2 linked regions of the Homo sapiens genome follow. The protein of the gene in region 1 purifies or fractionates together with the protein of each later gene. This does not show direct contact. Each region holds a gene or a part of one and is shown on either strand. Other genes may lie near its edges. The genes, in order: ZNF215 and ZSCAN18.

What was found.
Region 2: the proteins of ZNF215 (region 1) and ZSCAN18 purify together in Homo sapiens (co-immunoprecipitation; 2 studies listed by BioGRID and IntAct, with this or other methods). This does not show direct contact.

The regions. Positions count from the first base shown.
Region 1 is NC_000011.10:6,936,326-6,940,148, forward strand, and holds part of ZNF215 (zinc finger protein 215), read left to right. Parts: intron 1-3,599; exon of another isoform or gene 3,600-3,690; intron 3,691-3,823. UniProt on the Homo sapiens protein: May be involved in transcriptional regulation.
Region 2 is NC_000019.10:58,091,707-58,095,529, forward strand, and holds part of ZSCAN18 (zinc finger and SCAN domain-containing protein 18), read right to left. Parts: intron 1,693-3,823; exon of another isoform or gene 1,522-1,692; intron 1,079-1,521; exon of another isoform or gene 1,010-1,078; intron 1-1,009. UniProt on the Homo sapiens protein: May be involved in transcriptional regulation.

The sequences.
Region 1 (3,823 bases):
TAAAATGAAAGGGCTCATAAGAGAATACTAGGAGCAATTAAATGCCAACAAATTAGATGCACTTAGATGAAATTCACAAATTCCAAAAACACAAATGACCAAAACTGACTGAAGAAGAAATAGAAAATCTGAACTCAACTCAGCAATAACAAAAGACTGGTTTAGTTATTTTTAAACTTTCAACAAAGAAAACTCAAAGATGATATGGCTTCACTGGTAAATTCTACTACACTTTTGAAAAATTAACACCAGTATTCTCAAACTCTTCCAAAAAATAGGAGGAACACTTCTTAAGTTATCCTGTGAGGCAAGTATTAATCTGATGCCAAAGCCAGACAAAGACATCACAACAAAAGAAAAATGGCAAACCAAATCCAATAGCGTTTTAAGAGGACTATACAAAATGACTTAGTGGGATTGATCCCAGAAATGCAAGTATGGTTCAACAAATGAAAATATATCAGTGCTGTACATCATATTAATACAGTGAAAGGGGAAAAATTACACGATTATCTCAATTGATGCAGAAAAAGCATCTGACAAAATCCAATGCCCTTTTATGACCAAAAAAAAAAAAAGGACTAGAAGTGAACTCACTCAGCCTGACAAAGGACATTTATGAAAAACCCACAGTTAACATTGTACTTGATAAACTTGATGAAAAAGTGAAAGCTTTGTTCTTAGAATCAGGAACAAGACAAGAATGTCCACTCTTGCCACTTCTATTCAATGTCATACTAAACGTTCTAGCTAGTGCAATTAGGCAAGAAAAAAAGAAAAGGTATCATGATTGGAAAGGAAGAAGTAAAACTATCTCTACTGGCAGATGTTATACTCTTATATATCCAAAATCCTAAAGAACCCAGTAAAAAACTATTAGACCTAATAAACTCAAAGTTGCAGGATGCAAAGTCAACAAAAATAGGTTATGTGCCTATAGCAATGAACAACCCTTAAAAGAAACCAAGAAAATAATTTCATTTATAATATGTCAAAAATAGAGGTGTAGGACTTGTCTGCTGAAAAGTACAAACCATTGTTGAAATTAAAGACCTAAGTAAATCCTGCGTTCATGTATTGGAAAACTTAATATCATAAAGATAACACTCCCCCAAAGCAATCTACAGATTCAAATGCAATCCCTATCAAAATCTCAGCTGCTTTTTTTTTTTTTTTTTTTTTTTTGTCAGAAATGGACAAGCTGATCCTAAAATTCATAAGGAATTGGAAAGGACCCAAGATAGTCAAACTGCCTTCATAAAGAAGATAGTTTTAGAATGTATACTTCTCAATTTCAAAACTCACTAAAAAGCTGCAATAATCAAAGCTATGTCGTACTGGAATAGAATTAAGAGTCCAGAAATAAACTCATACATCTATGTCCAGTTAATTTTTGACAAGGGTGTCAAGGCATTAAATGAGAAAATAATAGTTTTTCAACAAATATTGCTGGGACCCCTTGATTTCCATATGCAAAAGATTGGAGTAGGGGCCTTACCTCATATCATGTACAAAAATTAACTCAAGATGGGTCAATTGTCTAAATATAAGAGCCAAAATCATAAAATTCTGAGAAGAAAATATAGAAATAACTCTTCATCACCTTAAATTTGGTAATCAATGCTTAGCTATGACACCAAAGATACAAGCAACAAAAGAAAAAATAGATAAATTAGACCATCAAAATTAACACTTTTGTGCATCAAAAGATACCATCAAGGCAGCGAAAAACCTACAGAATGAGAAAAAACATTTTGAAAATCATATATCTGATAAGGGTCCAATATCAGGAAAATATAAAGAACTCTTACAATTCAATAACAAGATAAGGAACAGTTTTTTAAATGGACAAAGGACTTGAATAGATATTTCTCCAAAGAAGATATACAAATGGCCAAAAAGTATAGGAATAAATGTTCAGGATCATTAGTCATTAGAGAATTGCAACTCAAAACCATAACAACACCCACTAGGATGGCTATAATAATTACAAAAGGAAAACGAATAGGGTTAGCTAGGATGTGGAGAAATTGTTTGGAATTGTATATCGTTGTTGGGAATATAAACTGGTTCAGCCACTGTGAAAAACACTTTGGTGGTTCCTCAAAAAATTAAACATAGAATTACCATATACCCCAGAAAATTGAAGACACATATTCACATTAAAAAGTGGAAACAACCCAGATGTCCATCAACTAATGAATGAATAAACTTTGCTATATACATACAGTGGAGTATTATTCTGCCATAAAAAAGAATGAAGTACTGATACATGTTAAAAAAAAAATGGATGGACCTCCAAAACATGCTAAGTGAGAGAAGTCAGACCCAAAAGGTCACATACTATATGATTCAATTTATGTGGAATGTCCAGAATAGGCAAATTCGTAGAGACAGTATAAGGAAAGGGAGTGTGTATGAGAGTGACTCCTAAATTAATATGGGGCTCTTTCTTGGTAATGAAAATGTTCTGGAATTAGATAGTGGTGATCATTGTACAACATTATGAATGTATTAAAAACCACTGGATTGTATTCTTTAAAATAGCTAATATGGTGAATTTTATATTATGTGAATTTTGCCTTTTTTTAAACTTAAATTCTAAGCTTAATAGAGAATGAAGTGACTTCACTAGAGCCACGATAGAATGGGAGAAAATTAAAGAATCAATGTAGTGTAATGGGACTCTGATAAAAGTTGGAGAATATACAAAAAGCAAGGAAGTAAAAATTGAAAGGATAGGAAGATGCATTTAGCTATTGATTTATCCAATTTTATACTCATGGCAGGATAGTTCTAAGTAATAAAGACCAGAGTATGAGCAAGGAAGTAGATTGTTTGCTGATGGTCATTAGAGATAAGAAAGTCAAAGGTCTATCAGTCTGGGTTGCTGGAAGGGGTGTCTGTGTCAGTGTTGAAGCAACCTATTAAAAGACTGTCAGGATTTGGGGTGAAAAGCAACAATGTGAAGCAAGTAACTGAAGTTTTTATTGGCCTAGTACAATTACTTTAGTGTTGGTCATTCACAGTACATTAGGCTCTCTGAGGGCAGGTATTTGTGTATCTCGCACATAGGAGATAGTAAATATGTGTTGAAAAAATGAATGCGCAATAGCTTAATATATTACAGCATCAAGAACAGTATAGCTAAATGGCATAGACTAGTAAGAAATATTTTTGCATGAGAGAAAATACTAGGAAGTGGAAGGGAGGTACAAGTAGATCAGAACAATTTCCAAGATCGTAGTGCTTAGAGGATAGAAAAAGGTGCCTTTGATGATGCCAAGATCCATTTAGCAAGGGAGAAGGAAGAGTCTGTAAAGAACTTGAGAATGTATATAGATTTTTCTTTGAATGGAATGAGGGTTTCAGAAAACATGACGGTAAAACTTCAAGAAGGGGAGGTCAGCAGGGAAGAAGTAAGGGAAGAAAAGGACATTCAGAGAGAGCAATAAATAGGATAGCTGATTGGAGAGATTTGCACCTTTCCAAGATACCTCAGGTATTTCCAAGAATGTCAAGAACAAGGAACAACATTGTATTGATTGTCCTAAAGATTATGGAATTGAGCAGATTGACATTCCACAAAGTGTACAGACCTGAATAAAGTTAACAGATCTCAGGACCAGGCTCACACTTGTAATCCCAACTCTTTGGGAGGCTGAGGCAGGAGGATCACTTGAGGCCAAGAGTTCAACACCAGCCTGGGCAGCATTGAAAGACCCTGTCTCTAAAGAAAAAAAAAGAAAAAAAAAACATTATCCAAGTATGGTGGCACATGCCTGTAGTCCTTGCTATTCAAGAGGCTGAGGCAGGAGGATTG
Region 2 (3,823 bases), on another chromosome or scaffold:
TAAACAGAACCCAGCGGGTCACAGCTGTCCAGGCCTCCAGTCGGCCTCGGGCTCTCATGTCACTGGCTATGGACACACAAGGGTGTGAACTGCAGCTGTCCACCTTCTCCCAGGAACCGCCTGGGTCTGAAGGTCCACAGAGACAGCTGGAAGGGGATTTCCCACAGCCGCAGCAAGCCCAGTTTTATAGGGAAAACCATAGAGTAAACCACACCAGGCCAGGTGCTGTGAGCCCTTCTCAGGTCGTCAAGTTCTGCTCTGACAGTGCTCCACCAGAATATGGGGCGCAAAGACCTCACCGCTGTGGGGTGGGGTGTGGTGTGTGATTCCACAGAAATGAAACATCTAGAACAGGCAAATCTATGGAGACAAAATGTAGATCAGCTGTTGCCAGGGGCTGGGGTTTGGGGGAATGAGGAGGGACTGCTAATGGGTACAGGATTTCTTCTTTGGTTGGTGAAAATGCTCAACGGTGAGTACTGCATATTAAAAACCAATGAACTGTCCACTTTAAATAGGTAAACCTCACAGTATGTAAATTACACTCAATAAGCTGTTTAAAAAACAAAACAAAACAAAAAAACAGGGCTGGGCACAGTGGCTGACGCCTGTAATCCCGGCACTTTGGGAGGCCGAGGCAGGCAGATCACCTGAGGTCAGGAGTTCGAGACCAGCCTGGTCAACATGGTGAAACTCCCTCTCTACTAAAAATACAAAAATTAGCTGGGTGTGGTGGTGGGTACCTGTAATTCCAGCTACTCAGGAGGCCTGAGGCAGGAGGATCGCTTGAACCTGGGAGGTGGAGGCTGTAGTGAGCTGAGATCATGCCACTGCACTCCAGCCTGGGTGACAGAGCGAGACTCTGTCTCAAAAAAAAAAAAAAAAAAAAGAACCAGAAGTTTGCAGAGAGTCAACTATCAACCTCTCTCTCTGTGGCTACCAGAGTTTAAAGGGAAGTGCGGAACTCTTAAGTGCTGTTGGAAGACATTCTACACAAGCTTCCACTTACCTCAAGCAGAACAGAGCCATGCCGTGCCATCATCACCACCACCACGATACCTCTACTTTTTTTTTTTTTTTTTTTAAACACAGGGTCTTACTCTGTCACCCAGGCTGGAGTGCAGTAGCATGATCATAGCTTATTGCAGCCTCAACCTCCTGAGCTCAAGTGATCCTCCCACCCCAACCTCCTGAGTAGCTAGGACTAAAGGTGCACATCACCCACACCTGGCTAATTTTTAATTTGTTTTGTAGAGACAGGGATCTCACTATGTTGCCCAGGCTGGTCTGTAACTTCTGGACTCAAGGGATACGCCTGCCTGGGCCTCCCAAAGTGCTGGGATTACAGGCGTGAGCCACTGCACCCACCCCCACCCTTTTGTTACCTCATAGGCCTGAGCTCTCAACTGGCCCCTCCGGGAGACTTTTCCTCTGCACTCCTTGCACGCACCCACCTGACACCCGCTCACTGCCCCCGCCTTTTACCTCCCTACTGACCGCCTCCCCCACTGGAATGCATACCCAGGAGAGTAAGGGTTCTTCACAGGCAGGTCCCTTGGCCTGGGCAGAGCTGGCTCAGTGTGTGTGGACTGTGCAAACAGTGCAGTTCTGCTGAGGGGTATGCTGGCTGTGCCTCATTTGTTTTTGGCAGTTGTGGACCCTCATGTCCATCTCTGTGGGGTCCTTTCTGATCTATTTAAAGGACATATGGAGAAGCAGGATAGCTAGGGCACAGGGGACAACCTCACGACCGTCACCTACTTATGGCAGCCCCCACCGGGGTGCCCTCTCTCCTCACACACTCCACCTGCTGCCAGAGGACCCTCAGACCCAAGCATCTGCCTGCTCTGTGACTGAGCGCTTTCTCATGATTTAATCTCTGAGGGCGGGTAAACTGCCCACTTTCCCGTGACTTTTTCTTTACAGCTCTTTCTGTCAACCAGTTAACGAGTTCCCTGTCTGGCTCTATCTTGCTACTGTCCCCATCTGTGGCTTGTCTTTTCACTCCACGCTGTCTTTTGGTCACAGGTAATGTCCTAATGTTTCTTACTATCTAATGCAATCACTTTTTTTTTTGGAGACGGAGTCTCGCCCTGTCACCCACGCTGGAGTGCTGTGGCACAATGTCAGCTCACCACAACCTCCACCTCCTGGGTTCAAGCAGTTCTCCTCCCTCAGCCTCCCGAGTCACTGGGGTTAGAGGCACTTGCCCCATGCCTAGCTAATTTTTGTATTTTTAGTACAGACGGGGTTTCACCATGTTGGCCAGGCTGGTCTCGAACTGCTGACCTCAAGTGATCCACCCGCCTCGGCCTCCCAAAGTGCCAGGATTACAAGAGTGAGCCACTGCAGCCAGCCTTCAACCATTTTTTAAATTGGACTTCGGAGTTCAGAAACCCACTTAAAAAGGGTTTCTTTCCCTTGGGATTAGAAATACATCCTCTCCTTTAGGAGGCCAAGGCAGGCAGATCACGAGGTCAGGAGATCGAGACCATCCTGGCTAACACCGTGAAACCCCATCTCTACTAAAAATACAAAAAAAAAAATAATAATAATTAGCCAGGCATGGTGGCAGGCGCCCGTAGTCCCAGCTACTCAGGAGGCCGAGGCAGGAGAATGGTGTGAACCCGGCAGGCGGAGCTTGCAGTGAGCCGAGATCGCGCCACTGCACTCCAGCCTGAGCGACAGAGTGAGACTCTGTCTCAAAAAAAAAAAAAAGAAATACATCCTCTTATTCATCCTCCAGGAACAGAGAATAGCAGATATAAAGGGCCAGACAGTCTCAGTTTCAACTACTCAACTCTGCCTCGTGGCAAGTAAGCAACCAGAGCCCTGTGCGTACCCACAGGTTTGGCATGTTCTTATGCATCTTCATTTACAAAAACAGGTGGCCAGGTGTGGTGGCTCACACCTGTAATCCCAGCACTTTGGGAGGCCACGGTAGGTGGACAGCTTGAGCCCAGGAGCTCAAGAACAGCCTGGGCAACATACCAAAACTTCATCTCTACAAAAAATAGAAAAATTAGCTAGGCACAGTGGTGCATGCCTGTGGTCCCAGCTACTCTGGAGACTGAGGTTGGAGGATCACCTGAACCCAGGAGGTCAAGGCTTCAGTGAGCTGTGATCACAACACCACATTGCAGCCTGGGTAACAGAGTGAGACCCTGTCGCAAAAAAAAAAAAAAAAAAAAAAAAAAAAAATTAGCCAGGCGTGGTGGCACACACCTGTGGTCCCAGCTACATGGGAGGCTAATGTGGGAGGACCCCTTAATCCCAGGAGTTGGAGGCTGCAGTGAGCTATGTTTGTGCCACTGTACTCCAGCATAAGCGACACAGCAAGATCCTGTCTCTAATGAATACAAACAAAACAGGTCACTGCTGGCCTGCAGGTGGGTACGCTAACCCCTGTTCTGGAGCCTCTCCTGATGGGAGGCGTGACGCCAGCTCTACCCCCTGGCAATGGAGGCACAGAGCTCTACTTGGTGCATGGACAGAGGTGTGGTCCTGCAGGCATGTAATTTTGGCTTTCTTAGGACGCCAGAGGCTTGTTCACCTTGCAGAGAACCTGTCTCCACAAAACAAACTGTGAGCTCCATAATGTGTGTGCACAGAACCTTCCCTCATCAGAACCTCACAATCCCAGAGGGGTAGGAACCACATGCAGCCCCAAGGTGCAAGTGGGAAATAGAGGCACGAGGCAGGCAATCACTAAGGCTGGGACCCCACCTGCAAAGTGACGCTGCCACTCATCCTTCCCCGTCCAGGCCCATAAGCCTGCCCTTTAAGAGGCCTCCTGCCGGCCCTCCCCTCTAGCCCTCATGGC